Homo sapiens: one gene and its partners. The protein of the gene in region 1 purifies or fractionates together with the protein of each later gene. This does not show direct contact. Each region holds a gene or a part of one and is shown in the gene's direction. Other genes may lie near its edges. The genes, in order: PRDX3, ATF2, OPA1 and DHRS4.

What was found.
Region 2: the proteins of PRDX3 (region 1) and ATF2 purify together in Homo sapiens (co-immunoprecipitation; 2 studies listed by IntAct). This does not show direct contact.
Region 3: the proteins of PRDX3 (region 1) and OPA1 purify together in Homo sapiens (affinity purification with mass spectrometry; 4 studies listed by BioGRID and IntAct, with this or other methods). This does not show direct contact.
Region 4: the proteins of PRDX3 (region 1) and DHRS4 purify together in Homo sapiens (affinity purification with mass spectrometry; 3 studies listed by BioGRID and IntAct, with this or other methods). This does not show direct contact.

What each region holds. Positions count from the first base shown.
Region 1 is NC_000010.11:119,175,812-119,183,320, reverse strand, and holds the start of PRDX3 (thioredoxin-dependent peroxide reductase, mitochondrial isoform a precursor), read left to right. Parts: upstream 1-4,508; 5' UTR 4,509-4,530; coding exon 4,531-4,566; intron 4,567-6,167; coding exon 6,168-6,300; intron 6,301-7,509. UniProt on the Homo sapiens protein: Thiol-specific peroxidase that catalyzes the reduction of hydrogen peroxide and organic hydroperoxides to water and alcohols, respectively. Plays a role in cell protection against oxidative stress by detoxifying peroxides.
Region 2 is NC_000002.12:175,074,199-175,081,220, reverse strand, and holds part of ATF2 (cyclic AMP-dependent transcription factor ATF-2), read left to right. Parts: intron 1-455; coding exon 456-561; intron 562-6,133; exon of another isoform or gene 6,134-6,221; intron 6,222-6,353; coding exon of another isoform or gene 6,354-6,361; exon of another isoform or gene 6,362-6,385; coding exon 6,386-6,612; 3' UTR 6,613-7,022. UniProt on the Homo sapiens protein: Transcriptional activator which regulates the transcription of various genes, including those involved in anti-apoptosis, cell growth, and DNA damage response.
Region 3 is NC_000003.12:193,589,139-193,596,226, forward strand, and holds the start of OPA1 (dynamin-like GTPase OPA1, mitochondrial), read left to right. Parts: upstream 1-4,069; 5' UTR 4,070-4,239; coding exon 4,240-4,271; intron 4,272-7,088. UniProt on the Homo sapiens protein: Dynamin-related GTPase that is essential for normal mitochondrial morphology by mediating fusion of the mitochondrial inner membranes, regulating cristae morphology and maintaining respiratory chain function.
Region 4 is NC_000014.9:23,948,910-23,956,772, forward strand, and holds the start of DHRS4 (dehydrogenase/reductase SDR family member 4), read left to right. Parts: upstream 1-4,860; 5' UTR 4,861-4,879; coding exon 4,880-5,007; exon of another isoform or gene 5,008-5,288; intron 5,289-5,838; exon of another isoform or gene 5,839-6,125; coding exon 6,126-6,303; intron 6,304-7,863. UniProt on the Homo sapiens protein: NADPH-dependent oxidoreductase which catalyzes the reduction of a variety of compounds bearing carbonyl groups including ketosteroids, alpha-dicarbonyl compounds, aldehydes, aromatic ketones and quinones.

The sequences.
Region 1 (7,509 bases):
GTTTACAATTCGGGGTATTTAGTTAATTCATAATGTTATACCCACCTCTATCTAGTTCCAAAACATTTTCATCACCACAAAAGAAAATCCTGGACTTCCCTCTCCCTCTCCCTCTCCCTACTCTCCCTCTCCCCACGGTCTCCCTCTGATGCCGAGCCGAAGCTGGACGGTACTGCTGCCATCTCGGCTCACTGCAACCTCCCTGCCTGATTCTCCTGCCTCAGCCTGCCGAGTGCCTGCGATTGCAGGCGCGCCGCCACGCCTGACTGGTTTTCGTATTTTTTTGGTGGAGATGGGGTTTCGCTGTGTTGGCTGGGCTGGCCTCCAGCTCCTAACCGCGAGTGATCCGCCAGCCTCGGCCTCCGGAGGTGCCGGGATTGCAGACGGTGTCTGGTTCACTCAGTGCTCAATGGTGCCCAGGCTGGAGTGCAGTGGCGTGATCTCGGCTCGCTACAACCTCCACCTCCCAGCCGCCTGCCTTGGCCTCCCAAAGTGCCCAGAGTGCAGCCTCTGCCCGGCCGCCACCCCGTCTAGGAAGTGAGGAGCGTCTCTGCCTGGCCGCCCATCATCTGGGATGTGAGGAGCCCCTCTGCCTGGCTGCCCAGTCTGGAAAGTGAGGAGCGTCTCTGCCCGGCCGCCATCCCATCTAGGAAGTGAGGAGCGCCTCTTCCCGGCCGCCATCCCATCTAGGAAGTGAGGAGCGTCTCTGCCCGGCCGCCCATCGTCTGAGATGTGGGGAGTGCCTTTGCCCCACCGCCCCGTCTGGGATGTGAGGAGTGCCTCTGCCCGGTCGCGACCCCGTCTGGGAGGTGAGGAGCGTCTCTGCCCAGCCACCCCATCTGAGAAGGGAGGAGACCCTCCGCCTGGCAACCGCCCCGTCTGAGAAGTGAGGAGACCCTCTGCCCGGCAGCCGCCCCGTCTGAGAAGTGAGGAGCGTCTCCGCCCGGCAGCCGCCCTGTCCGGGAGGGAGGTGGGGGGTCAGCCCCCCACCCGGCCAGCCGCCCCGTCCGGGAGGTGAGGGGCGCCTCTGCCCAGCTGCCCCTACTGGGAAGTGAGGAGCCCCTCTGCCCGGCCAGCCGCTCCGTCCGGGAGGGAGGTGGGGGGTTCAGCCCCCCCGCCCGGCCAGCTGCCCCGTCCGGGAGGGAGGTGGGGGGTCAGCCCCCCGCCCGGCCAGCCGCCCCATCTGGGAGGTGAGGGGCGCCTCTGCCCGGCCGCCCCTACTGGGAAGTGAGGAGCCCCTCTGCCCGGCCAGCCGCCCCTTCCGGGAGGGAGGTGGGAGGGTCAGCCCCCCACCTGGCCAGTCGCCCAGTCCGGGAGGGAGGTGGGGGGGGGTCAGCCCCCCGCCCGGCCAGCCGCCCCGTCCGGGAGGGAGGTGGGGGGGGTCAGCCCCCCGCCCAGCCAGCCGCCTCGTCCGGGAGGTGAGGGGCGCCTCTGCCCGGCTGCCCCTACTGGGAAGTGAGGAGCCCCTCTGCCCGGCCACCACCCCGTCTGGGAGGTGTGCCCAACAGCTCATTGAGAACGGGCCACGATGACAATGGTGGTTTTGTGGAATAGAAAGCGGGGAAAGGTGGGGAAAAGATTGAGAAATCGGATGGTTGCCGTGTCTGTGTGGAAAGAAGTACACATGGGAGAATTTTCATTTTGTTCTGTACTAAGAAAGATTCTTCTGCCTTGGGATCCTGTTGATCTGTGACCTTACCCCCCAACCCTGTGCTCTCTGAAACATGTGCTGTGTCCACTCAGGGTTAAATGGATTAAGGGCGGTGCAAGATGTGCTTTGTTAAACAGATGCTTGAAGGCAGCATGCTCGTTAAGAGTCATCACCACTCCCTAATCTCAAGTACCCAGGGACACAAACACTGCAGAAGGCCTCAGGGTCCTCTGCCTAGGAAAACCAGAGACCTTTGTTTACTTGTTTATCTGCTGACCTTCCCTCCACTATTGTCCTATGACCCTGCCAAATCCCTCTCTGTGAGAAACACCCAAGAATGATCAATAAAAATAAAATTAAAAAAAAAAAAAAAAGAAAATCCTGTACCTACTAAATAGTTCCGGCTGGGCGCACTGGCTCACACCTGTAATCCCAGCGCTGTGGGAGGCCAAGGCAGGCAGATCACTTGAGGTCAAGAGTTCGAGATCAGCCTGGCCAACATGGCGAAACTCCGTCTCTACTAAAAAATACAAAAAAAAATTAGCTGGGCATGGTGGTCACACCTGTAGTCCCAGCTACTCGGGAGACTGAGGCAGGAGGATTGCTTGAATCTGGGAGGCAGAGGTTGCAGTGAGCTGAGGTTGCAGTGAGCTGAGATTGCATCACTGTACTCCATCCTGGGCAACAGAGGGAGACTCTGTCTCAAAAATAAATAAATAAAATAAAAAATAAATAGTCAGTCCCCATGCCAGCTTCTCCCAGTCCCTAACAATTGCTGATTTGCTTTCTGTCCCTTTGGAATTACCTATTTTAGATGTTTCATATAAAAGGAAACACACACTATTTGTTCTTTTGTGTCTGGCTTCTTTCACTTAGCTAGTGTTTTCAAAGTTCATCTGTGTTGTAGCATATATCAGTATTTCATTCCTTTTATGGATAAATAATATTCCATTGTGAACTACAGTATTTTTTTTTTTTTTTTTGAGACGGAGTTTCAATCTTGTTGCTGAGGCTGGAGTGCACTGGTTCAATTTCGGCTCACTGCAACCTCTGCCTCCCAGGTTAAAGTGATTCTCCTGCCTCAGCCTCCCAAGTGGCTGAGATTACAGGTATGCACCACCATGCCCAGCTAATTTTGCAATTTTTAGTAGAGAAAGGGTTTCACCATGTTGGTCAGGCTGGTCTTGAACTCCTTACCTCAGGTGATCCACTCACCTCAGCTTCCCAAAGTGCTGGGATTACAGATGTGAGCCACTGCGCCCGGCCTACAGTACGATTTTGAGCTCCAAAATGATTGTCTCCTTTTCAATCATCTGCTAAACACAGACATAATTAAAACCAATTAAACAAACACAAGGAAGGTGTGAGGTGAAATAGTCGAAACGTGTGTCCCCACACATCCAAGGCAGTCCTTTCCACATCTGGGGACTGGTACCCAGGGTGGCGCCTAGTGGTACCTGAGATGATTTTAGAAAATATACTGGGCTGGGTGTGGTGGCTCACGCCTGTAATCCCAGCACTTTGGGAGGCCAAGGTGGGAGGATCACCTGATGTCAGGAGTTCAAGACCAGCCTAGCCAATATGGTGAAACCCCATCTCTACTAAAAATACTAAAAAAATTAGCCGGGTTTAGTGGTGCACGCCTGTAATCCCAGCTACTCGAGAGGCTGAGCCAGAAGAATCGCTCGAACCAAGGAGGTAGAGGTTGCAGTGAGCCGAGATTGTGCCACTGCACTCTAGCCTGGACGACAGAGTGAGACTCTGTCTCAAAAAAGAAAAGGAAAAAAAAAAAAGAAAGCCAATTTAAAGAAAATAGTAAGTGATATTTGGTGATAAGAAGACTTGAGAAACGAAGTTGCTAATTGAATGACTAGTGATTGGAAAATACCAACTCAGACCGGGTGCAGTGGCTCATGCCTATCATCCCAGCACTTTGGGAGGCCGAGGTGGGCGGATCACTTGAGGTCAGGAGTTTGAGACCAGCCTGGCCAACATGGTGAAACCCCATCTCTACTTAAAATACAAAAACTTAACTGGGCATGGTGGCAGGCGGCTGTAATCCCAGCTGCTCAGGAATCCCAATTACTCATGAAGCTCAGGCAGGAGAATCGCTTGAACCCGGGAGGCAGAGGTTGCAGTGAGCCAAGATCATGCCACTGCACTCCAGCCTGGGCGACAGAGCAAGACCCAGTCTCAAAAAAAAAAAAAAAGAAAAGAAAAGAAAAGAGAAAAGAAAATACCAGCTCCAAGACTGCAATTTGTCACACTTACTGTAAGGCCACGGTGTGATTTTTATCTATGTTTGATGTGGTTGCTTCAAGTACTATGCTCACCACTGAACACTTGGCTTCATTAATAGACAAAAACCAAATTTTAAATTTGTCCCAGTTTTCCCAATTTTGGGAAGAGAGGCCAAATGTTAGACCACACACAATTCCAGCGGATTTCAGGCCAACAAAGCCTTGATGTGTCTAGCCCACTTAGCTTATTAACGGACTAAAACTGCATTTGTAATTAATTCCATTTCATACAGAAGCCGGAAGTCTCTACCTGAGGCTGAAATAAGAAAGGGATCCTGTCACAGAAATACTAGACACAGTAATCCACACAAGGTTAACAAAACAGTGGGAAATATGGAAACAAATACCTAATGCCCCGCCTGGATTCGTTCTTTTAAGGTTGGGGCGACAGTAGGAAAACCACGTGTCACTTGCCCAAGCATTCAGCCTTAAAGGGAATTTCTCCCTCAGGGTCTCCAGGAGGCGGGGAGGCGGTGGCTCCTCCGGCCCCGCCCCCCCACCAGCAGAGGGCCCGCTCACCACCCCGTAGGCCCCGCCCCTGCGTCTCTGCCCGCCCCGTGGCGCCCGAGTGCACTGAAGATGGCGGCTGCTGTAGGACGGTTGCTCCGAGCGTCGGTGAGTGGCTGTCGGCTGGGGACAGGCGTGGAGACACTGGTGGCTCCGGGAACGTGCTTCTCAGACAGGACCCCGCGCTTCTGGGCATGAGGGCCATTCGCCCTTCTTGGAGGGTTTCCGCGGGTAACGGACCCAGAGGCCTCCCTCCGGGAAGGTTCCATGCGCCTGCGCAGAACCGCCCTTCCCCACTCCATCCTCGCGGTCTCTTCCCCGAGTCCCTCCTCTTTCGGCGTCCCCGGTCCCCAGGCCCATCTCCACTTAAGGTCCTGGCCCTGATTCTGCCACCGACCCTGTGATCTTGGGCAAGCGCCTTCGCCTTTCTCAGACTGTGTACTTAAGATGGAAAGAATGATGCCTACATCAAGGCGTTGCTGTGAACAGCCCCTTAAATACTGGATAAAAACGCGCAAAGTGCTAAAAAACTCACAAAGGCTTTCCCTCCCAATCCCACTCCCGCGTGTTTCTGCTGCTGTTTCCTGCTTAACTGTGGGCAATGCGTCGTGCTCTTTTGGTACACGGCTTTCTCTGGTGGGGTTCAACACAGCCCCTTTCGTTCTCCTGAGTCATTTTGAACATTAAAGTTGAGCAAACCGGCAGAGTGCGGTGGCTCACGCCTGTAATCCTAGCACTTTGGGAGGCCGAGGCGGGCAGATCACTTGAGCCCAGGAGTTTGAGACCAGCCTGGACAATAATAGTGAGACCTTGTCTCTAAAAAAAAAAATAGCCGGGCATGGTGGTCAGTGCTCCTGGGGAGGCTAAGGTGGGAGGATCACTTGAGCCCAGGAGGTCGAGACTGCAGCGAGCCGAGATCGCGCCACTGCACTCTAGCCTGGGTAAAAGAGCGAGACTCTGTTTCAAAAAAAAAAAAAAAAAGTTGAGTAAACATGTCCCTTGAGCCTTTAACAGACTCCCAGAGGCTGAATTTGGCTCTTCTTGTTTACTTGTCGCTGGTGCTGGAGGGGCCTTGTTTTTCTAAGGAAAACCTTGAAATGGTAGAACATACTCAGCAGATAGTGCTGGGAAAAGCCTGCACAAGTCCCCTGGCTTCTGAACCCTGTGTTGCTTTAAGCGCATGGAGTTTCTGATTTTTTTTTTTTTTTTTTTTGAGACGGAGTTGTCGCCCAGGTTAGAGTGCAATGGCGCGATCTCGGCTCTGCAACCTCTGCCTCCCGGGTTCAAGCAATTCTCCTGCCTCAGCCTCCCAAGCAGCTGGAATTACAGGTGCCCGCCACCGCCGCCTGGCTAAGTTTTGTGTTTTTAGTAGAGATGGAGTTTCACCATCTTGGCCAGGCTGGTCTCGAACTCCTGACCTGGTGATCAACCCGTCTTGGCCTCCCAAAGTGCTGGGATTACAGGTGTGAGCAACCGCGCCCAGCCGGTCTTTGTGTTCTTATAGTTCCTCTCCACCTTCCAGTCTCCTAGGAGAAGGAAGCAGAAGGGAGTGTTAAGAACATGCAGATCCAATCCATGCTCTTAGAGTTTGGGGTTTGCTATTTGGTTCACAGGAACAGGGACAGCTGAAACCACCGTTGGCACGATGCCCTTTCAGCCTTCAGTCACCAGTCCAGGAAAACTTTCTAATAAAAAGTTTCTCTTTCCAGGTTGCCCGACATGTGAGTGCCATTCCTTGGGGCATTTCTGCCACTGCAGCCCTCAGGCCTGCTGCATGTGGAAGAACGAGCTTGACAAATTTATTGTGTTCTGGTTCCAGTCAAGCAAAATTATTCAGCACCAGTAAGTGTTATGTCATGTCTTGGCTGGAGCCAGGTAAAGGAAAAATGAACCATCGTCTCTGGACAGGGGCTCTGAACCCTGGCCAAACGTTAGAGTCACCTGGGAGCTTTCAGGAACACAGCACTGCCCCCGTCCCACCCCAGACAAGTTAGTCTGTGGGGTGAGACCAGGATGTGCCGGGTGATTCTAACGTGCAGCCAGGGTTGAGAATCACTGAGGCAAACTGCCCTTGTCACATTTCCATGTTGGTTGTCAGAGTTTCTAATCCACTGTGTTGAGGAGGGTGTTACTGGGAGCTCAGATGCCTTCTGAGTCTAGTGTGTCTGAAGAGCTGTGAGTGGTGGGCAGCCTGTGGGGGACCTGAGAGGGCAGCTGCTCTAAGATTCAAACCTGTGTAATGGCCCCAGCTGGCCACTTAGGAACCAGACCTGTCTAATGGTATCTGTAATCTGAGCGAAATTTAGCTGTTTCTTGAGATTTACACTCCCTTCTCTAGGATATGGGCTTTGCTAAGATCAGCCTCAGATAATGAGTGGTATTTGAAAATACCTTGTCTAGATTTGACTAGCCTTTGAAAAAGCCCGTATTTAATATGTAATGGTTTGTGGGGATATACTTTAGTAAAGCCTTTGTTTGTGGGCAAAATGTTCTAAGAGCTTTCGCAATTTTACTACCCTGGAGCTTCAAAATATTTCTAGTAGTGATGTGATACCACAGGCTTAAAACTTTACTCCACTGGTTTCGAATCCTCATCCCCAGCAGCGCCTCCTGTTTCTGTTCATGGCGGTGTCAGGCATTTTGACATTGGAACTACTCTGTCGCTCATTCCTGGGTAGAAGCAAGTCCTTTTCAGTTTTGACACATCTCTTGCATCCATTCCTTTCTGTTCTTTCTGCCCCATACCTCCCCTCAATACGTCTAAGATCACTGAAATCGAGGCTGGGCACAGTGGCTCACACCTGTAATCCCAGCACTTTGAGAGGCCAAGGCAGGCGAATTACTTGAGGTCAGGAGTTCAAGACCATCCTGGCCAACCTGGTGAAATCCCGTCTCTACTAAAAATACTTAAAAAAAATAAGCCGGGTGTGGTGGTGTGCTACTGGAATCCCAGCTACTTGGGAGGCTGAGGCAGGAGAATTGCTTGAACCTGGGAGGCGGAGGTTGCAGTGAGCCGAGACCATGCCACTACACTCCAGCCTAGGTGACAGA
Region 2 (7,022 bases), on another chromosome or scaffold:
GCTTTTCTTGGTTTCTAGGAAACTGGAAACTTGCTTATTTGAATTTCTAGGATGATTTTTTTCATTTTTAGGTGAATGGAATCAGTGAAAATTCATCCTGACTCCCTTGATGTTTCTTTTTAAATAATCAGAAGAGCATGCAACATATATAAAATAAAAATACTTTCAACAGGTCACCAATAATATATAAGAAGTCCCAGGGAAATGGAAACAATTTTGAAATATGCTATCCAGCTGTGGCATTATCTTAAATTTTTATTCAAGTTACAGCTTTTTAATAAATGCTAAAATATAAAAGCTGCCCTGTGCTGATTAGACATATTTAATCAGCATATTTTCTTTGTTTTTAATGTTCTGCCAGTGATGTCCAATTTTATACTTTAATCCTTGCTTGTTTTAAATAGTAAAAAATATGTTTAGTCTGTGGTAAGGTACATAAGTTGTTTCTTCTCCAGAGTGAAGTCACCCTGCTGAGAAATGAAGTGGCACAGCTGAAACAGCTTCTTCTGGCTCATAAAGATTGCCCTGTAACCGCCATGCAGAAGAAATCTGGCTATCATAGTGAGTAATGTTCCATTACCTATAGCCTTAGGCTACGTCAGTGAAATACCGTCAGAGTGAACTGAGCTGCTACTTTAAAAATGGAGACTGTGCTTCTAATATTCAAGATTAAATATCAGAATTTCTGTAAGGTTATTATAGAATGCAGTAGAGAGGTATAATTTTTTAGAATCTAGAGAGTTTGAGTTTTCCTGTTTCTAGCTTTTTTCCTAAGCGTTACTATAGATCAACAAAATGGATTAGCTAATAATTTAAAATATACTGTAAGTACTTGATGATATTTTGTTCATCTTCTCAGGATAACACTTTGTCTTAGATTGACAGGGTGAAACACTACTTTTTTCCCAGCCTCCGTTCATTAATGATGATATTTTTCTTTTTAAAATCAGCTGACTGCCTTTAACAATATATGATATCCCTTTAAGGTATCAGATCCTATTGTTCTTTCTTAGATAATGTCAGCATTGTGTAACGTTTTTATTGTTGTAAACCTTTATATTGAGATATCTAGTTAGTTTATAAAAATGTTAAAACGGGAACAGTAGTTAAATTATCTGCTTGTAAATTTCCTGCTAAATGTTTTCCCAAAGAATGAGATTCTTTTGTTTTCAGCATTTTAAAGGTTAATTGTGCCTTTTCCTTTTTGTAATGTCCTTCTTTTTTGATAAGATGCACAGTGTTGGAACCAGCTGTTACTCTTGAATAAATGGCCAATTTTGTCCATAGTATACAAATTTGTAACAAACAACAGAGTTGGGAATGCATTAGGCAACATTTATAATATATAACCCACAGTTTTAGTCTTTATGATTTAGTGATATTTCAGGATATTAGTAAATGTGAAGATTGTTTCAACCATATGTATCCACTTCATTTTAATTTGCCAGTGTCAGTAATTCAAAAGAAAGAAACATTTTGTATTGGATGCAAACAGTTCCTCAGGTGCTCACGATAAAACTTAATGGCCACCATCTTTACTTGTAGTCATTATAAGCAGTTTCATCAGAATGGGCAATATTTTTTAATTTAAAAGATTCCGTAGATTTAGCTACTCTCAATTGCCATATATATTTAGAACGCTGATTTTTGTCAGTTTTGAGCATATAAATCTTGCTTATTTGATATCTAGTAATTTTGACAGGATGGTGAAACACATTGGAGTAAATTGGAACCATATAGAAATATGTTTGGGATTTATATTAACAATGATTGCTTCAGGGATGAGGCCATTATGGTTCCCATCTGACTTAACAACATAATTTCCTATAGAAGCTACTAGTTCAGCATTTATGCATACGTGATTTTCTTAACAAGAAATCTCTCTTGGATTTTCATAGTTTAAAAGGAAATAAATTGTTTTATAAAATTAAAAGGAAATTAACTGTTCTCTTAAATTGTATCCAATTCAGAATTACCTGTAATTTTTAAATCTTTGATAATTTATTAGATAATCCCAACAGTTTTGACTCTATTATCCAGGCAATGTATGCTCAGCAGATGCAAACCAGTTATTCATTTGACAATTGATTTACAAGATATCTTAAGTGTATAGATGCGTAGGTTTATATACTGTATACTTAAATGACTGAAAATCTAGATTAATACATTTTTAGTACATAGAGTACTAAGTTATGAGAATATAAGAAATGAATAGGATATGTTTGTTGTTTGGAAATAATCCTATCTTTATTCCTGTCTAGTCATGTAGATAATCAAATTAACTGAAATATAGTTCTACCATAAAATTAATTCTCTTCAGATCTTGGGAGATAATTGGATTTTGTAGAAATTTTCAGGTAATTTATATTTTCAAGTTTGAAATCTTTGAAATAAGTCTGACTTCTCTGTTGTGTAGTAGTAAAAATAGATACAGAAATTGACTAAGTGAATACCTTTGAAAAATTTACACTCTTCATTATGTTGTAGCACACAGCTCTTGCTAACAGTGGTGAGTTGTAATACTAGCTAAATCTTTAAAAACATTTGGGAATCAAAACTAAGATTTAGTAGAAATTAAGGAATGTTACAAAATCTTTCAAGTAAAGGTGGAAGTACTAAGTCACAGCCATAGGGTCTGTCCCGCCCAGTTTTAGCACTGAAAGTCCTACTTCCTAAGAAGACCCCTCAGTCGTGGGAAAACCATGACAGTTAGTCACCCCAACAGTTAAGTAATATAAAACCTGAATGAAAATACTAAGAGTACATTTTAAATATTTGGGTTCCATGAAAAATAAAGCACAAAAGTGATCTTATTGCCATGAATTCACATTCTTTAGATCTGGGCATAATTAAAGTTGTATTATAATTGTCTCTATAATTATAAATGGGAAGAAAAGCTTCTTGGGGACTAATCAACCACAAATACTTTTATTACTGAAAATATGTATAGGCCAGGCACTGTGGCTCATCCCTTGTAAGCCCAACACTTTGGGAGGCCAAGGCGGGAAGATTGTTTGAACCCATGAGTTCAAGACCAGTCTGGGTGAAATAGCGGGACCCCATCTCTACAAAAAATAAAGTTTAAAAAAGCCAGGCATTTTGGCACACACCTATAGTCCCAGCTACTTGGGAGGCTGAGGCAAGAGGATCACTTGAGCCCAAGAGTTCAAGGCTGCAGTGAGCTGTGATCGTGCCATAGCACTCCAGCCTGGGCGACAGGGAGACCCTATCTCAAATAAGGAAAAGAAACTTGTGGACATAGGTAGAGAACTTTCAAGATTACTGAATTGCCAAACAGCTGGTTTCTTTTAGCTTAGGTAGAGCTGGAAGTGGCTCTTTGAGTACAGCATGGTTTTCTGTATCTCTCTAGTGCTTGTGATTACACCAGTCATTTTCTCCCCTCACCTAGAACTGGACATAGGTGCAAATATATCACATTGTAAAGGTATTTGATGTGTATGTAAGGTTTATAATTACATAATTGTGAGTACCTGATTCTTTGTACTGCTTAAAGATTTGCTTTACCTAATTCTGAAAGTCTGTAGGTAAGCATTCATCCCTTATAATTTACTGTTTCATTTTAAGTTGTTGACTCCAGTATGTATTTACGTTTCCTTATACCACTCATCACAGATCAGCCTCTTTATTTTTAAAAGCTGGTGTGTCCCTTGAACTCAACATTCAGGGAAACGTCAGCCTGTTGTTCTTTTAAAGAATAGTGGTGAAGTTAGAATGGTGATCATTAAAAAGTCAGGAAACAACAGGTGCTGAAGAGGATGTGGAGAAATAGGAACACTTTTACACTGTTGGTGGGACTGTAAACTAGTTCAACCATTGTGGAAGTCAGTGTGGCGATTCCTCAGAGATCTTGAACTAGAAATACGATTTGACCCAGCCATCCCATTACTGGGTATATACCCAAAGGATTATAAATCATGCTGCTATAAAGGCACATGCAAATGTATGTTTATTGCAGCACTATTCACAATAGCAAACACTTGGAACCAACCCAAATGTCCAACAATGATAGACTGGATTAAGAAAATGTGGCACATATACATCATGGAATACTATGCAGCCATAAAAAATGATGAGTTCATGTCCTTTGTAGGGACATGGATGAAGCTGGAAACCATCATTCTCAGCAAACTATTGCAAGGACAAAAAACCAAACACTGCATGTTCTCACTCATAGGTAGGAATTGAACAATAAGAACACATGGACATAGGAAGGGGAACATCACACACCGGGGCCTGTTGTGGGGTGGGGGGAGGGGGGAGGGATAGCATTGGGAGATATACCTAATGTTGGATGACGAGTTAATGGGTGCAGCACACCAACATGGCATATGTATACGTATGTAACTAACCTGCACGTTGTGCACATGTACCCTAAAACTTAAAGTATAATTTTTAAAAAGTGATAAAAATAAAAAAATTTTAAAAATCACATATAAATACTTAAAAAAAAAAAAGAATAGTGGTGAAACAAAACAAATAGAGCTTTTTAGTATTCCCTCCAGTTAAACTGTCATTGCCAGTATTTTGTTTTCTATATACATGTAATGATTATGTAATGATTATATTGGCTATTTTAATAACTGAATTATAAATATTTTATAACATTCATTACTGCTTGATCAGAAAAGTAGGGGGGTGAAGGAGAGGGGCACTAGTTGAGAAACGACCTGTTGGGTGCTATGTTCACTATTTTGGTGATAGGTTCAATAGAAGCCCAAACCCCAGGATTGCACAATATACCCATGTAACATACCTGCATATGTACCATCTGAATCTATAATTTTTTTTAAGTATTCATTCTGTTTTATATAATTTTTAAAGGATTACTACTTCTGGTGGTTGGTGGTGGTGGTGGTGTTGTTTTATTGTACCTTGAGGTCAAGTATCTAGGGGTATGGTTTTGATTTATAGCATGTTATAGAGAAGATGGGGTTCCATCTCATTAATGTATTTTAAAACCTGCTTTTCAAAAATGCATGGATTTGAGGCAGATGTTGAAAAATTCTGTAAAAACTATATTTCAGAAAATGCACAAAATTAATAATTTTATTTTAGCTAAAGTTGACACTACCAGGTATCCCCCTCTCCATCTTCTACATTGCAAATCATAGGCTAAGTCCTGCTTCATAAGATGTCCACAATTTTTTTCACTAATTGACTTTCAGAATGGGCATCTGGCCATTAGTAAGCAGGCCAATACACATTCTTAGATTTGATTTTAGAAGCCTATTTACTGTCACTCCTAAACACTGAATAAAAAAAGTTTTAATGCCAAGTGAAAAAAGCAAGGTGCAAAAGAATACATCCAGTGTGATACTGTTTTTAAAATGTTTCAAAATAAACAAAGCTGAACTATATTGTTTAGGGATACATGCCTATGTGGTAAAACTGCAGAGAAAAAACGAGAATGGTTAAAGAAATGTCAGAGTGGTGATTACCTTTGGTGAGGACAGGAACCTCCAGGAAGCAGAAGTGTTAATGGCAATGTTCTCTCTTAAGTTGGCGGCTCGGTTCCCAGGTGTTCATGTTATCATTGTTCCTCATAACTTACATATACTATAAATATTTGTGTGTTATCTATATCAAATTTTTACTAAATGAAATTACTGGATTCTGTTCTATTAAAATAAGGATGTAAGAGACTTGTTCAGGTCTAAATATTTGCAGATTTATTTTCGTAAATATTTAGAATGCCCTTTCCTTAATATCTTTTCAGATGCAATGTTTAGAGTTTTATATGGATTTTTACTTGAATCCCAATTTATTCATGCAACTATAACAGCTGGTGGCATTTAGATTCTAAATACTGCTTGTTCTCCTATGTATGCATCATTAGAATCAGGTGTTATAATCATCCATGGCTGCAATAGATGGAAAATCAGTCAGAATAAATACAGTTCTGGAGAATGCAGAGGGAATAATTTGAAGATATAATTTGTATGTAAGAATTCATTTTGTTTATGCATGTGGTTATACATTTTTATCTTGTAATAAGAATGACATGTAGGCCAACCAGACTGAGTTTGTTAAATGTGATACTTAATGTTTGATTGTATCTGTAAGAGACTATCTTCCAAACTCTCCCTCATTTTCTTTCTTTAACACTATTTAGCAAATATTTCTTCAGCTCTATTCCATAAGGCAGTGGGCACCCAGATGTTTCCATATGCATGGTTGTGCCTTCTTTTGACCTATTGCAGGTAAAATTGCCTACTTCATGACCTATATCAATTGCTGTAATACCAACTTGTCTAATCAGTTTTGTAAGATACTTTCTAACTTTTTACTCTGTGTATTGCCTCAGCATACTGGTGCATTCTTACCGATTTTAGGAAAATGAATAATTTTTCTTTTTTCCACCCAGCTGCTGATAAAGATGATAGTTCAGAAGACATTTCAGTGCCGAGTAGTCCACATACAGAAGCTATACAGCATAGTTCGGTCAGCACATCCAATGGAGTCAGTTCAACCTCCAAGGCAGAAGCTGTAGCCACTTCAGTCCTCACCCAGATGGCGGACCAGAGTACAGAGCCTGCTCTTTCACAGATCGTTATGGCTCCTTCCTCCCAGTCACAGCCCTCAGGAAGTTGATTAAAAACCTGCAGTACAACAGTTTTAGATACTCATTAGTGACTTCAAAGGGAAATCAAGGAAAGACCAGTTTCCATTTATGCGAAATCTGTGGTTGTAAATTTTTTTTTTTTACTTGAAATTAAATTTGGCTCTAAAGTTGGTGTAGCAGCAGTTGATCAGACTGAAAAACGGTTTTTAGTCTCTGGAAAAAGACTGATTTTGCTTTTTTTATAAATATTATTAGATTTATTAATTTTTCTGTGCTCAATGTGTAAATTGTATTATAATTCATTGTGATTTATTTCACTTTTAATTTGCTGGTGTTTTAATAAATGGGGGTGTTACTGAATCTTTCTTCCCACTTCCATTTCTTTTGACCACCCCTTAACCCTCAACTGTGACGGTAGTAGTATTATCATTTATACCAA
Region 3 (7,088 bases), on another chromosome or scaffold:
CAAAACAAACAAACAAACAAACAAAAACCAAATATATATATATGTGTGTGTGTGTGTGTATATAATTTGTGTGTGTATATATATGTATTTATATCCTCGACTAGGGTTCATAGGAAGTGACTGTAAATGTTTGTTAATAAGGATTATAACATGCTTTTCTGAGGGCTGGGGAGAGTTTGATAATGATGATGGTGCAAACATGTATGACTTCAGCTAATTATTGGCTTCTCCAGGAAACCACAAAGAGTAGTGTTAAGGAACTTGGAGATCTCCCAAGAAGAACTTTGCAAAAGCTTTTATGTATAAATTTAAATATAAAACTTATGAAATCAATTTTAAACATTTCCATTTCCATTAACATCTCTCATTACCTTCCTTTCTGAAAATTTCTGATTCGTTGGATAATTCTGAAAAGGGTCCCTTTTCCTGCTAAGGTAAATATTTAGAGTTTTACCTGGTGAATTGCTCAATTCCCAGCTGAACTGGAAAATTTAGTTTAAAGTAGTAAAATTATTTCATGACTTCTGGATCAGAAAAATATTTTTAACATGTTTTTACAAGTAATTAATACACAAGTTCAGAGTATAAAAGGGTTTACAATAAATGTAAGCCTCCCTCCCACTCATGACCCACTAACTTCAAGTCCTTCCTTGACTCTGCCCTTCACTAGGGCTTATCAACTCAAATATTTTCGTGGGTTAGGCATGTAACATAAATGAGTAATGCAAGTATGTCTGTTGTATAATGTCATATTAAATTGTATTCATATAATTTATTCATATAATTTTACTTGCCTACTTGCATACTTGTGTTCTTTTGCCAAAAAAAAAAAAAAAAAAAGCTCTTTCTCATTGTTTTGGAAATGGCTGACCCTCTCAGTCCTTCATTTTCTCTCACTTTTCATATTGTAATCATCCAGCAGGTTCTTCCTGCTCACTGCACAGACAAAATCATTTCACTGAGACCAGGGCATCGCAGTAGAAAAAGAGTTTAACTGATTCAAGACCAGCCTATGCAGGAGAACTGGAGTTGTCACTCAAATCAATCTTCCTGAAGGCTCTGAGGTTAGAGGTTTTTATGGACAATTTAGTGGGCAAGGGGTAGGGAATGGATGCTGCTGATTGGTTGGGGATGAAATAATAGGAAAACATTCCTTGTGTGCTGAGTCCACCTCTGGGCGGGGCCACAGGATCACTTGAGTCATGAGTCATAAGTCTCGATGGGGTGAGTCTGAAATATACCGCAAAAAAGCAGTCTTAGATTCTATAGTAATGATGTTATCTATAGGAGCAATTGGGGAAGTCATAAGATTTGTGAGTTCTGGCCACATTGATTCCTGAGCAGTAAGGGACTATAGAAACCATACCTACGTCTTAGCACAGTTCAGGCCCCTCTCATGATCCTGTTCTCTTGGCCTTTCTTACAAAGGTGGTTTTTGGTTCCTGAGCAACGAGGGAGTTAGCTTTAGGAAGGGACTATTATAATCCTTTCTTTCAAGTTAAACTATAAACTACATTCCTCCCCAAAGTTCATTTGGCTTAAGTCCAGGAATGAGCAAGGACAGCTTGGAGGTCAGAAGCAAGATGGAGTCAACTATGTCAGGTTCCTCTTGTCATAATTTTGCCAAGGCAGTTTCAATATAAGTAGTGGTTGTTTTTCCTCTTAATTTTTACTAAGAAAAGTAGAAGCACAAGCTTCATGATAAACAGTAATTGATGTGTTCAATTTCAGAAAGATGAAGGAGTGTGAACTACCGGAGAGGACATGAGTGCCTGAAGGATAAAACTACTACTTGGCTCCTGGTTCCGAGACATTTTTTGTATATAAGAATTGAAGGTTGATGTTGTTAGGCATCCTGATATTTTTATGTGATTTTTTAAAATGTGAAATTTGTTGATTTTTATTTGGCAACAAATGTAGCATTTTTTTGCTTGTTTGTTTTTGAGACGGAGTCTCGATCTGTCGCTCAGGCTGGAGTGCAGTGGCACAATCTCAGCTCACTGCAACCTCTGCCTCCTGGGTTCAAGCAATTTTTCTGCCTCAGCCTCCGAGTAGCTGGCTAATTTTTTTATTTTTAGTAGAGACAGGGTTTCACCATATTGGCCAGGCTGGTCTCAAACTCCTGACCTCGTGATCTGCCTTCCTCGGCCTCCCAAAGTGCTGGGATTACAGGCATAAGCCGCCATGCCCAGCCCAAATGTAGTGTTATTTTTAAAACACTGCATAGGCCAACACTGTCTAAACCAAACAAAACAGGTCTGTGGGCTGAATTTGGTCCAATGGTTGCAGTTTATTATACAACAGTTTGCCCTTTTTTCATGGCAACACTATGTATCTATGGGAGATCATTCCTTATCAGGACATACAGACCTAAAGCATAGGTTTTCATGGCTAGTACGGATGTAATTTATGTGTCTAGTTCCTATACATGGACATTTATACTGATTCCAATCTTTTCCCATTTCATACAGTGCAGAAATAAACATCATCATGCATACATCTTTGCATACATGGGAATGATTCCACAGGATAAATGCCTAGAAGTAGAACTGCAAAACAAGGGCTTCATAAAACATATGATAACCATATATAAATGGTGATGGTGGTTAGTTTCTCCTTTTTTTATGGTTAAAGTCTTTTATCCCTAATTTTTCTTTTTTGTTGTTGTTGTTAAAGTCTCTTGGTTTCTCTTATTTTATTTTCTAAAATAACAAGGAAGTAACGATTACAAAGACACTTTTTGTACAACCCTACAATCCCAGGAAGATCTACAGTTTGCACAGGTTGGTACAGCAAATTGCTCTCTGGACCTGCCATTGAAACAGTCACCACAATAAATAAAGAAAATTCTAAGAGTCCTGCATTTGGGAAGTTTACTATCAATGGCTAGGTCTACTCTTGGTGGTATTGTGAGTGCATGGGTCCAGACTTATGATTCTGACAATTAAGGGAAAAGGAATTGTCTTTATGCTCTGTGTATTTGTGTATGTGTGTGGCATGGGTGGGGGGCGGGTAGTGGGGAGGAGGTGAAAGGTCCCTGAAGTAAAGAGGATGCACAGGACCCTTTTATTTTAGTCCCTAAAAATTGGCTTCATAACCGTTCACAGGCCACATCCCTTTTACGGGCCCTGGTTTCCTTACAAAACATAAAAGGTTTGTGTTGGAAGGGGAAAGGAGTATTTAAAGTGATGGAGGAGAGGAGCTCAAGATGGCTGAGATCTGGGCCTGTCCAACATTGAGAAATTTGGGAGGGGAGCCATCAAAGAAGCCTGGGAGCAGCAGTTCCAGGGAAAAAGGAGAATGTGATGGCCAGAGAGCCAAAAGAAAAAGTAGTTGAAGGAGTGCTCAGCACTAGGCATCTGAACTGAATGCTGTGGCAGGCTCACTGGCCACAAACAATAGGGAGCTGGTGGAGGCCTTGACGAGGACCATTTCAACAAACTGGTGGGCTTAAAATCCGGAAGAAACAGTTGAACAAATCATTTTGACGCCTTTTATAAACCACACAAGCTTATTCCAAACCCGTTACTGGCCTAACTGATTTAAGTCCCTTTCCCATCTGATCCTCAGAGATTCTAAGGGACTTAGCCTATCCATGACTCTTCGTCCTGCTTCTCACCTCCCATGATTGCCCTAACGATGTGAAAGTGCTTTCAAACAAAGATGCCCAAGAAAGAAGGTAGGCAAATGTGCAAGCATTAGTTTGTAGTACGCTATTACTGTATTTCACCTTGCACTCTCTAGTTTCCTTCGTGCTCCCTCAATATCCAACTCTTAATAAATTCATGGCTCCCGGTGAGCATTCATCAATTCTCATTCCACGCCTTTAGCCCTTCCCGTTCCCGCCCAACTCTCGCTCCCTCCCCTGGCCAAATCTCTAACCTGCAAGGCTAATTCCGAATTCCAAATCGGAAGCAAGAGGGCGGGGCCCCGTGAGAGGCGATGGATTGCTCCAGTCCGTTCCCGACGCACTGTGCGCATGCGCTGGTCCTCCGCGGACCGTTCGTGCTGCCCGCCTAGAAAGGGTGAAGTGGTTGTTTCCGTGACGGACTGAGTACGGGTGCCTGTCAGGCTCTTGCGGAAGTCCATGCGCCATTGGGAGGGCCTCGGCCGCGGCTCTGTGCCCTTGCTGCTGAGGGCCACTTCCTGGGTCATTCCTGGACCGGGAGCCGGGCTGGGGCTCACACGGGGGCTCCCGCGTGGCCGTCTCGGCGCCTGCGTGACCTCCCCGCCGGCGGGATGTGGCGACTACGTCGGGCCGCTGTGGCCTGGTAAGTGCAGGCTCTAATCTGGCCCCGTTAATTCTGGGGCCTCTTGAGAGTGGGGCTGTCTTATCTCTATCTCCAAAAATGTGCAGGTGACTCTCAGGCCAGGCCGACGGCAGTTGGAGAATTCCCAGATGTTCTTGAGGACCCAGAATGACAGGAGCCCTGGCTGGGCTTACGTTCGGAGCCGGCTTCAATACTGGCCCTTTTCTCTGGCCCTACCCAACCCGAAAATTCTGGACGCCTCTCAATCTTGGCCCGTCTCTATTGTCCTTTTGTCTCTGCCCTTTACACCCTTGTGTCTTCAGTGTTCTGTCTGTCTCTGGTTGCCTCTTTTGCCTTTTTTCTGTCCTCTCCCTGCCAGGTTTGGCTCTGTCCATGAGTCACCTCTCTCCACATTTCTCCTAACTCTCGGTGTCTTCTTTTTCTTCCATTTCCACGCCATGTGTACATTGCATCTTCAGGTACCTGGGCTCTTCTATCGGGGAAAGGGGCGTCCGTCTCTTTCCCTAGCCCGCTGATAGAAGTCAGAACTAGAGCAATGACGCACACGGTGTCAGAGACGGTGATTCGAGATGCCCTTTCAATAGCAGCTTTTTTCTGTGTTTCGGGAGGGAGACTTACTTTTTGATGCAAGGTCGTGAACGTGGCACCACCTTTCTAATCTCAATCATTGTTGCCCTGGGGTGGTTTAATTCTAAATAGAAAATCATAGAAATCTTTTCATTTCTGTGCGTTACTATATGCATTGTAATGAGATTAAATTGGATTTTATAGGAAATTTTGTTCTAGTATCATTAGATACCTTCAAGCTTAGCTCATTGTTGCAGGCATTTGATAGGAAGTAAGATGCATCAAGCAAAATTGGAAAAACGTGGTTTTCCTGAATTAACTTCTAAGCAGTTGTTTTGAATTTTTTCCAGACCTTTTTAAGTGGTATAGATAATTTATCGTGTTTATAAGGAATGGAATGCATTCGTTAGTTTGTTTTTGTTTTGTTTTGAGACGGAGTCTTGCTCTGTCGTCCAGGCTGGAGTGCAGTAGCGCTATCTCGGCTCACTGCAACCTCCGCCTCCCAGGTTCAAGCAATTCTCCTGTCTCCGCCTCCGGAGTAGCTGGAATTACAGGCACGCGCCAGCACGCCTAGCTAATTTTTGTATTTTTAGTAGAGAGGGGGTTTCACCATTTTGGCCAGGCTGGTCTCGAACTCCTGACCTCATGTGATCCACCCTCCTCGACTTCCCAAAGTGCTGGGATTACAACCGTGAGCCACCGCGCCCGGCCCAATTTGTTTTATATAGGTTAACTGGAGTCCAAAATACAGAACTAGATGAGATAACAATAGTTAACAGTGTTAGTCAGTTAGAATTATTGCATAGGTATTTTTAATCTCATGGAATTTTAGTCTTTGAGTAAGTTCACAGCCCTTGGTATTAAAGTAAGTTATTTACAACCCTTGCATTTCTACTTCTCAATATTTAGTGAGGAAACATATCTGATTTTCTTTAAATAAAAAGAGAAAAGACTGCAGAAGATAGCATTCTCTGTTGGAGCAATTAAGATGTATAAGAAGAACTACAAAGACGGAGTTTTAAAACAAACTGATTTATAAGTGGTATTTATTTAATTGGCTGTCATTGGGCTAAATTATTTCTAAAGTTACCATGGATGCCATTGAGTCATGGCTTAAAAATGTCTCCTGGTGATGGCACAGTTTAGCTACCTAAAGAAGTAGAGATGTGGGAAGCCAGAAGCCCCAAGCTCTGCAGTTTTTCTTTTGCTATAGTTCCTTTGCATGTTGTGAAAGAATACAGTTAAATTCCTGCTCCCTAACAGATGAGAGCATAAGCATTTCTTTGGGCATACATATGTAAATACATGCTCATGGACATGTGAAAAGATCAATACTAACATTTGGGTGCAATAAATAATTGTGTAAAATTATTTTTAAAAGAATTACATATTAGGAAATGATATATTGATTAAAAGTGATAGTCAATGAACAAGAGAGTAGATTTCTGGGGGAAACCTATTTTGCATCATACTTGATTTTTAGTTTTGACTGAATATTGAAGTCTATATTCAAAATTCTTTTCCTTTAGAACTGTAAAGGCATTGCTGCATTTTCTTCTAATGTAATTGTTTATTGCTGCTGAGAATTCTTATGACAATCTGATTTTTTCATCTTCATGATTATCTTGTTTTTCCCTTCATGGAATCTGTTAGGGTCTTGACTTTATCCTTTATCCTAAATTTCTCAAGGCTTGGACCAGGTGTGGGTTTGGTTTTGTTTTCTTTTGCTACTCATTTGACTTGGCACACTCAGTGGGCCTTTCCCTTTATCTTTCTTCATTTCTGAGACGTTTTTCTCTCTTATTTTTTATTATCTTCCTTTCATTTTTCCTGTCCTTTTTCTTTCTAGACATCTCTTAGGAGGATAGTGGTCCTCTTAGATTGATATGTTATGTCCGTGATTTCCAAAGTAAGATTTGTACTCGTCGTCTGTTAAAAGGAAAAGCATACATATACCCTATGTATATATGCACACTTTTTTATTTTTAAATTATATATGTATCTGTACTAATTATTTACATTGTAAGTCAACCCTAACATAATCTTAAAGGATAAGATACAAAACATACTGCATCTAGAAGCTTCAGTACTTTCTTCCTGAATCCCAGTAGATCCTTTTGTTCATCCCACGGGATGCATTCCGCCCCCATCCTCCCACTCCCTTTGGATACCACATTACCACAGCTCTGCATCACTTAACTTTCCTCTTATGTTTTTCACCTTTTTTTTTTTTTTTTTTTTGCATTTTAT
Region 4 (7,863 bases), on another chromosome or scaffold:
CAGTTAGAATGGCAATCATTAAAATGTCAGGAAACAACAGATGCTGGAGAGGATGTGGAGAAATAGGAACGCTTTTATACTGTTGGTGGGAGTGTAAATTAGTTCAACCATTGTGGAAGACAGTGTGGCCATTCCACAAGGATCTAGAACTACAAATACCATTTGACCCAGCAATCCCATTACAGGGTATATATCCAAAGGATTATAAATCATTCTACTATAAAGACACATGCATATATATGTTTATTGCAGCACTGTTCACAATAGAAAAACCTTGGACCAACCCAAATGCCCATCAATGATAGACTGGAAAAAGAAAATGTGGCACATATACACCATGGAATATTATGCAGCCATAAAAAATGATGAGTTCATGTCCTTTGCAAAGACCTGGATGAAGCTGGAAACCGTCATTCTCAGCAAACTAATGAAAGAACAGAAAACCAAACACTGCACGTTCTCACTCATAAGTGGAAGTTGAACAATGAGAACACATGGACACAGGGAGGGCAATATCACACACCATGGCCTTTTCAGGGGGGTGGGGGGCTAGGGGAGGGATAGCATTAGGAGAAATACTTAATGTAGATGATGGGTTGATGGGTGCAGAAAACCACCATGGCACATGTACACTTGTGTAACAAACCTGCACATTCTGCAAGTGTATCTCAGAACTTAAAGTATAATTATTTAAAAAAAGAAATTAAAAAGTGGGGATTGGAGCATAGAAGAAAGAAAAGAAAAGAAATTTGAAGGACAGTATGTATAGTGTCATTTCAATTGTGGAAAAAATTTTTAAAAGAAAAATGCATGTAAATGTACAGGAAACTTCTGGAAGGATACACAAAGCCAAGAGCTATATGGGAAGAAGGTAAAAGAACCATAGGGAAGAGTTACCTTTTACTTTTCAAATAATTTTCTGTCCCTTTTTAAAATAATGTGTTATTTATATAATTTAATGAGTAGATGTGTTGATTTGAAAAACACACTGATCCTGAAAGTTTAAATTCCAGTTGAGAGAAAATTGATTTCTATGAAAACTATGGATTGCCCAACAATGCCAGAAAACTGAAGTGTAACTATGCAACACACACAGTGGTCAAGGTTGTCATCAGTCACTCTGATTTCACATAGAGAATTTAAAACACCTAATTGGGTGCAGTGGCTCACGCCTGCTATCCCAGCACTTTTGGAGGCCAAGGCAGGAAGATCACTAGGTCAAGGGATCGAGATCATCCTGGCCAACATGGTGACACCCCGTCTCTACTAAAAATACAAAAATTAGCTGGGTGAGGTGGTATGCACCTGTGGTCCCAGCTACTTGGGAGGCTGAGGCAGGAGAATCACTTGAACCCAGGAGGCAGAGGTTGCAGTGAGCTGAGATTGTGCCACTGCACTCCAGCCTGGCGACAGAGCAAAACTCTGTCACAAAGTAAAAAAAAAAAAAGAAGAAGAAGTTAAAATGCCACAGTCCTTGGTGGACTTAACAAAAGAAGATGAATGTGGGAATAAAGACAAAGACAAAAGAGTATTTTGGAAGAAGGGGTCAGGAGGCTCCTTGCTTCTAGTGAAGAAGGGCCCTGAGCTTCTATAGCCCTTTGTATTTATTGAGTAAAGGAGATAGGGAGAAGGGGGTAGTTGTCAGTCAGCTGCTTGGCTTAGTGCAGGCTTGCATGACTGCATTCTTTGAACAGTAGTCTCCAGATGTTCCTGTAGATAACCTCAAGGAGCACAGCACCAGGGAGTCATTGCCCTCAGCAAACCTTCTGGTAGCAGGCGCAGAAGTGAGTTTGCCCACATTCTGCATTCATGATAAACAGTTTGCTGTTAGATCATACAGCCTTCAGTGGAATGCTGAGTTGGTCACGACCCTCAGGCCTTTGGCTCCCTACATTAAAACACCCATTTCACCAGACTAAAAATATTCAATAAAATTTATAAAAAGCACTTAACGCTTGCCAGCATTTAGTAAGGAAGTGCTCAATAAATACTGTTAACACTCTTACTATTACTTTCTCTGCTTGGTAGTTGTCCTAACCCCACACCAGCCCTCCCACATTGCCTAATTCTGACTTGTGTCAGTGATGCAGGACTCGACTCAATCTAGGACAGCTATTGCAAAACGCAAGACTTAAATTCCACCCCAGGTGAAATCTCTTCTGGACCGCAGGCAGCCCTTGAAAAGGATGGGAGTAGTGCCCTCACTCATGAAGGCATTTGTCCCTCAAGATAGGCAGATGTTACCACCTCCATGTAAGAACAATCCCATTGCCTGTTACAGTTCCCATTTCAAAGAGATACTCCCACATATGCATGTATTTCCCTGAAAGATTTCCCGTTATTTATTTATTTATTTATTTATTTATTTATTTATTTATTTAGATGGAGTCTTTCATTCTGCTGCCCAGGCTGGAGTGCAATGGCATGATTTTGGCTCACTGCAACCTCTGCCTCCCACGTTCAAGCAATTCTCCTGCCACAGCCTCCTGAGTAGCTGGGATTACAGGCACATGCCACCAGGCCCGGCTGGTTTTTGTATTTTTAGTAGAGATGAGGTTTCACCATGTTGGCCAGGCTGATCTCGAACTTCTGACCACGCCCAGCTAATTTTCGTATTGTTAGTAAAGAGGATTACAGGTGTGAGCCACCATGCCCAGCCCAAGATTTCCTGTTCTTATCTCCAATAAGCGAGCTTGATGAGGAGTAGTGCTAGAGAGTCCCATACTTCTTGACTTCCTTCCATCCTTTTCTGCTCACAGGCCCCCTCCCTAATGTCCCCTGTGCTCTCCACAAAAGAAATAGTGCTAGAGGCCAAATAGCAACCCTGCCCACACAAGGAAGGGCCATGTAATGTTCACCAAGCACCCAAGCCACAATTCTCTCTTCCCAGAATCCTTTGCTCTTTGAAGTGTAGTCTTCCTCACCTTCCTGCCAACCTCAGCCCCTGAGTCCACCTGTCTACCTCTGAAGAGAAGGGAAAGAGAGATCAAACGCCCCCTGCAGGCCTGTCCCTTTGAACCAAGCCCTGAGAACCCCCGCAGCCGTCCTCCTGTGTACCCTCCCCCAGCCGCACACACAGATGGAGAGCCCTGGGAAGGGTTCCCACAGTGCGTTAGCTCCAAACAGTGCAAGAGGACAAGCAGTGTGGCGCTTCCAGCCTCTGTCAATAATTCATGAGGCTCAGACTGAGGAGCACCAGTCAGAGTCAGCCTTCCCTGGACATGGGGAAAATTATACTGAAGCTCTCCTGTCTCATCGGGATCTGCTGAGTAGCAAAGCAGAGTATTGCAGCTGTAACTTCTTGGCTGAGGAAAACACTAGAATTCCAGTGCAGGCCGTTCTATTACTTGCTCACCATACACCCCCTTTTGAATGTTGAAACCCTTTTTCAGCTGCTCAGCTTACCTGCACATATACTAAATGAATCTTGAGCAAACATGAATTCTATTCAAAAGTCATGCCTAGAACTGGATTTCACAAACCAGGATTCTTTCCCCTTTAATTGTAGGGACTGGCATAAGGCTGCCAAACTGGTGATTTCACCAATAACACATCTCTAAACCTACCCATCTGCTTTCATCATCTTTTCTAAAAGAAAACACTAACACACACACACACACACAAAAAGAAGCAAACGTATACTCCACAATAAAGGACTGTTAAATAAGCTTAGCTTTATGAAACTCACTGTAATTGTTTCCTTTTCTCATTTTGCCTTGAACTAGTGAAAACGCTGCCATGAACCAGCACTGCTTCTCAGTCTGGCTTTGGAGGCCAGTGGGTTAAACCAATTCAGATGCTTGCATTTGGGTCTGTTGGGGCCTTTCTACACTGTACCATAAGCCATCCAGATTTCTTCATTCTCCCGGAAACCCAGGAGGGAGATCATTTCAGCCCACTTGGCAGAAGTGCAGACTGAAGTCTTGGACACAGAATTTATAGCTGGCAAGGACTTTATTCATCATCCATACCCTCAGTAATTTACAGATGAAGAGTCTGGCCCAGGGCACCAATAATAATCACTACATGGTGGCAGTAACTACTATGTGCTTAGTAGCTTACAGTTCATAAAGAGATTTTGCATTCAACAAATATTTATTGAACTAAGATGGCGGCTAAGACCTGGGGACAGAGTGGTTAGGGAGAACTTGAGTGCCCCGAGTTCTTTGCATTTCCACCACTGCTTGAGGGACTGTCCAGCCTCCTCGCTACCACTTAGCCCCTGTAAAGGAGGAAGTCCCTTTGTCAACGGACATGAGAATGCTGTTTGGCCAATGACCATAGTCTGCCCTCCAGGGCCCGTGAAGATGGAAGAGACCTTGGGCAGAGTGAAGGGCAGTGCCAGGCCTGGCGCAGCTACTCCCTATCACGTCTCTCTCCCAGGCTCTTCCAGCCTCACCTGGTGGACTCCATGGCGACCACAGGCCTCACCTCCATGGGCAGTCTCAAAACATTTGCCCTCCTGTGGGCTGTCACACACATAGACCCAGACTTTCTTGGAGAAGGAATTCTGAAGAAGCAAAAGCAACCAACTCAAAACCCCCACTTCCCAGAGAAGAAAAGGTGGGCAAGCAGATGCAGAAAGGCAGCAGCCAAAGCCTGCGGGTTCCTGCAAGGGCCAGGGGAGGGGCGAGCCCTACAGGCAACTTGAACGGAGAGCTCACCCGCCAGCCCGGAAAGGCAAGCCCCAGTCAGGCGGAAGGTAGATGGTGGAGGGGCGCCGCGGCGGATGGAGGTGCCCAGGGCCACAGACCGCTCACAGCGGTACCGGGGCGGGGAGCAGGGCGGGCAGGGAATCGGCCCGCCCTTCGTCCTGCCCCTCGCCCTACTCTGTCACCGCCCCTGGGAAGAGTGGAACCCATACTTGCTGGTCTGATCCATGCACAAGGCGGGGCTGCTAGGCCTCTGTGCCCGGGCTTGGAATTCGGTGCGGATGGCCAGCTCCGGGATGACCCGCCGGGACCCGCTCGCAAATAAGGTGGCCCTGGTAACGGCCTCCACCGACGGGTGAGTGCTCCGGCCGGAGTTTCTGAGGCCCTGGCTGCCTGGAAACAGGCACTGGCCTCTCATCCTCGGCCTCCGGTGCCCCTGTCCTCAGACCTTACACGCTGCCAAAGTCTGGCCCTGGAAAAAAGGTAGCCACGTGGTCCGCCTGAAGCCACTCCGAATCCCCTAGCCCTGGACCCTCCCTTGCCAGCCCTCCTGTCCCTGCTACCTCTGGCACAACTGTGCCACCTCTGTGCAGCCCTATCGATCTAGTCTCCCCAGTGTTCTGGGCTGCCCCAGTCAACCAGCGCCACCTAGCGTCTGGGAAGACCAGAAACTGGAAATCCAAGGAAATCTGGATTTCAAAATACTATCCCACGGCCTCCAGCACTTTGAAAATGTACCAGACATTCTATTTGGGCACCGGAAAGTCCCCCGGAACCCCTCCCCCTTACCTAGATGGGACACCAGAGCCATATGTCGAGATTTTTGTTTAGGTCGGTACATCTGGGCCGACCTTGCCCAGCCTGTTTCTCACCCACCATTCTTGTCTATCCTGGTCCTCATTTCTACAGGACTTTGCTAGATGCCAGCTCTTCACAAAACTAAAATACAAATGTAGGTAAAATGCTAATAGCTGACAAATGCAAAATGTGTAACTCTTCCTCCCAAGGCAATATTTACATTTTTGACCGGAGACCATCTTTTCACATGCACCCCAAAAAATAACTAAGGATAGAATTTTGAGAATGATGTAGACGAGTAAGAAAGAAACCTGGGGGCAGGGCTGTTCTGAGTGAGACCCTCAAATCACGGAAGTGGCTGCTGCTGCAAACCCAGCTCATTTCTCACCTCTCAGTCCCAAGAGGGGATGAAGCCTGTCACCCATGGTGGGAACTGTAGAAAGTGATGTCAGTTCTTGGGAACTGAGGCTGTGGTCCAGGTCATAATAAAAACAAGTAAAGGAATGCCAAAAATGGCCATGCCATTAAGCCTGTTTTACACATAGTAGGCACACGTAGGGGTTATATAGAGAAAGAGCCAGAATTCAAACCCGGGCAGTCTTAACTTCAGAGCTCATACTGTCGACCTCTTCCCCTGCACAGGCCTTAGCAGTCTTTGTCTCTTTCTGCTCACAGGATCGGCTTCGCCATCGCCCGGCGTTTGGCCCAGGACGGGGCCCATGTGGTCGTCAGCAGCCGGAAGCAGCAGAATGTGGACCAGGCGGTGGCCACGCTGCAGGGGGAGGGGCTGAGCGTGACGGGCACCGTGTGCCATGTGGGGAAGGCGGAGGACCGGGAGCGGCTGGTGGCCACGGTGAGCTGCAGGGAAATGGGCACAGAGCCAGGAGGTGGAAAACGGAGCCAGCCTGAGCCTCCTTCCCTGCTTTCCTAGACAGCAGCACATTTTTACTGTGTGCCTTTCTATTATGTCCATATACTAACGTCAGAGAATCATCCCATCTCAGTCAGAGAATTTTAAAACATTCTAATGCTTCAACCCTGCATCATCCCTTGAGTACCCCAAAGAAACAGCTGGTACTGGTTCTGCAGTAATTTTCAATCTAATTGAACAGATGTGAAGGGTAAATACAATCACAAAATACATGTTCCCACCCATGAGTTAATAAACATTCCCCTCTTCTTCAGCTTATAGAGTCAAGTCCCTGGGAACCTCAGGAAGCAGCCCACCATGTTTCAGCCACTTACTATGTGCCATTTCCTGTGTTCAGAGCCTTACACAGGTTATCTCTAGACCTGACAACAACCCAAGCAAGGCAAGGACTATTCTCTCAGTCTGCAGACCCTGGCTCAGATAGCTGGAGCAACTTCCCAAGGTCCCACAGCCAGTAAGGAAAGACCCAGACCTCCCAGGCTCCCTTCCTTTATTGGCTGCCTGTGGACTACCGGGTACTGGACTTTAGTCTCAAAGAAAGTATATAAGTCGATGTCAGAATTAGTAGTGGACACCAGCCTTGCAGCTGCTGAAGCAAATATGAAGCATTCACAAAGGAAGCTCCTCTTCCCTTGAGGCTCACGGCATACACTTTATTTCCCAGAGTGGAAGGGAGAATCTACCCAAAAATGGAAAGTACAGGATTCTGCTAACAGATTGGAAGGTTGGCAGAAATAATTTGCATAATCTTAGAAGAGGAGGATCTTAAGCAATAGTAGACAGTAGTATGGTAGACAGAATAGGGTAATTCCATTTTTAAGGAACTGTCTGGCAAATGCTCAAATGTGCATTGGAAAGAGCCAAATATGAGTCCAAGAAAGTCACAAATGTGAGTCCAAAAAAGCTTGGCTTAGGCTGATGGACAGACCCCAAGATTGGGGCCTTGATCCTGATGGTGGAAGGAGCCGTTTGGGAGTCTGGATCAATTAGCACTAACCATATGACATGTAGCAATGTAATGTGAAAATCCTCCCGGAAAAACATCCTGTGGCCCCCACCAGGTTCACTTAACATGGCCTACAGGCCTGGCCCAGAGGTGGTACTTGAGCTAAACCTTAAGGAATGGATGGGAATGGACAGATGGAATAGTGATGAGGTTCCAGATAACTCTGCAAAATGAGCAGACAGCCAAGGAGGAACTGAAGGAAACAGAGGAGCACTGTCAGGCCACAGTGGAGAGCACAGGCTCAGGAGTACTGCTGGGGAAGGGGCTGCATTGGAAAGATAGAGGCCATGGGCCTCCATATCCTTTTTTTTTTTTTTTTTTTTTTGAGACAGAGTTTCATTCTTGTTGCCCAGGCTGAAGTGATATGGCACAATCTCAGCTCACTGCAACCTCCGCCTCCAGGTTCAAGCAATTCTCATGCCTCAGCCTCCCGAGCAGCTAGGATTACAGGCATCCACCACCACGTCCAGCTAATT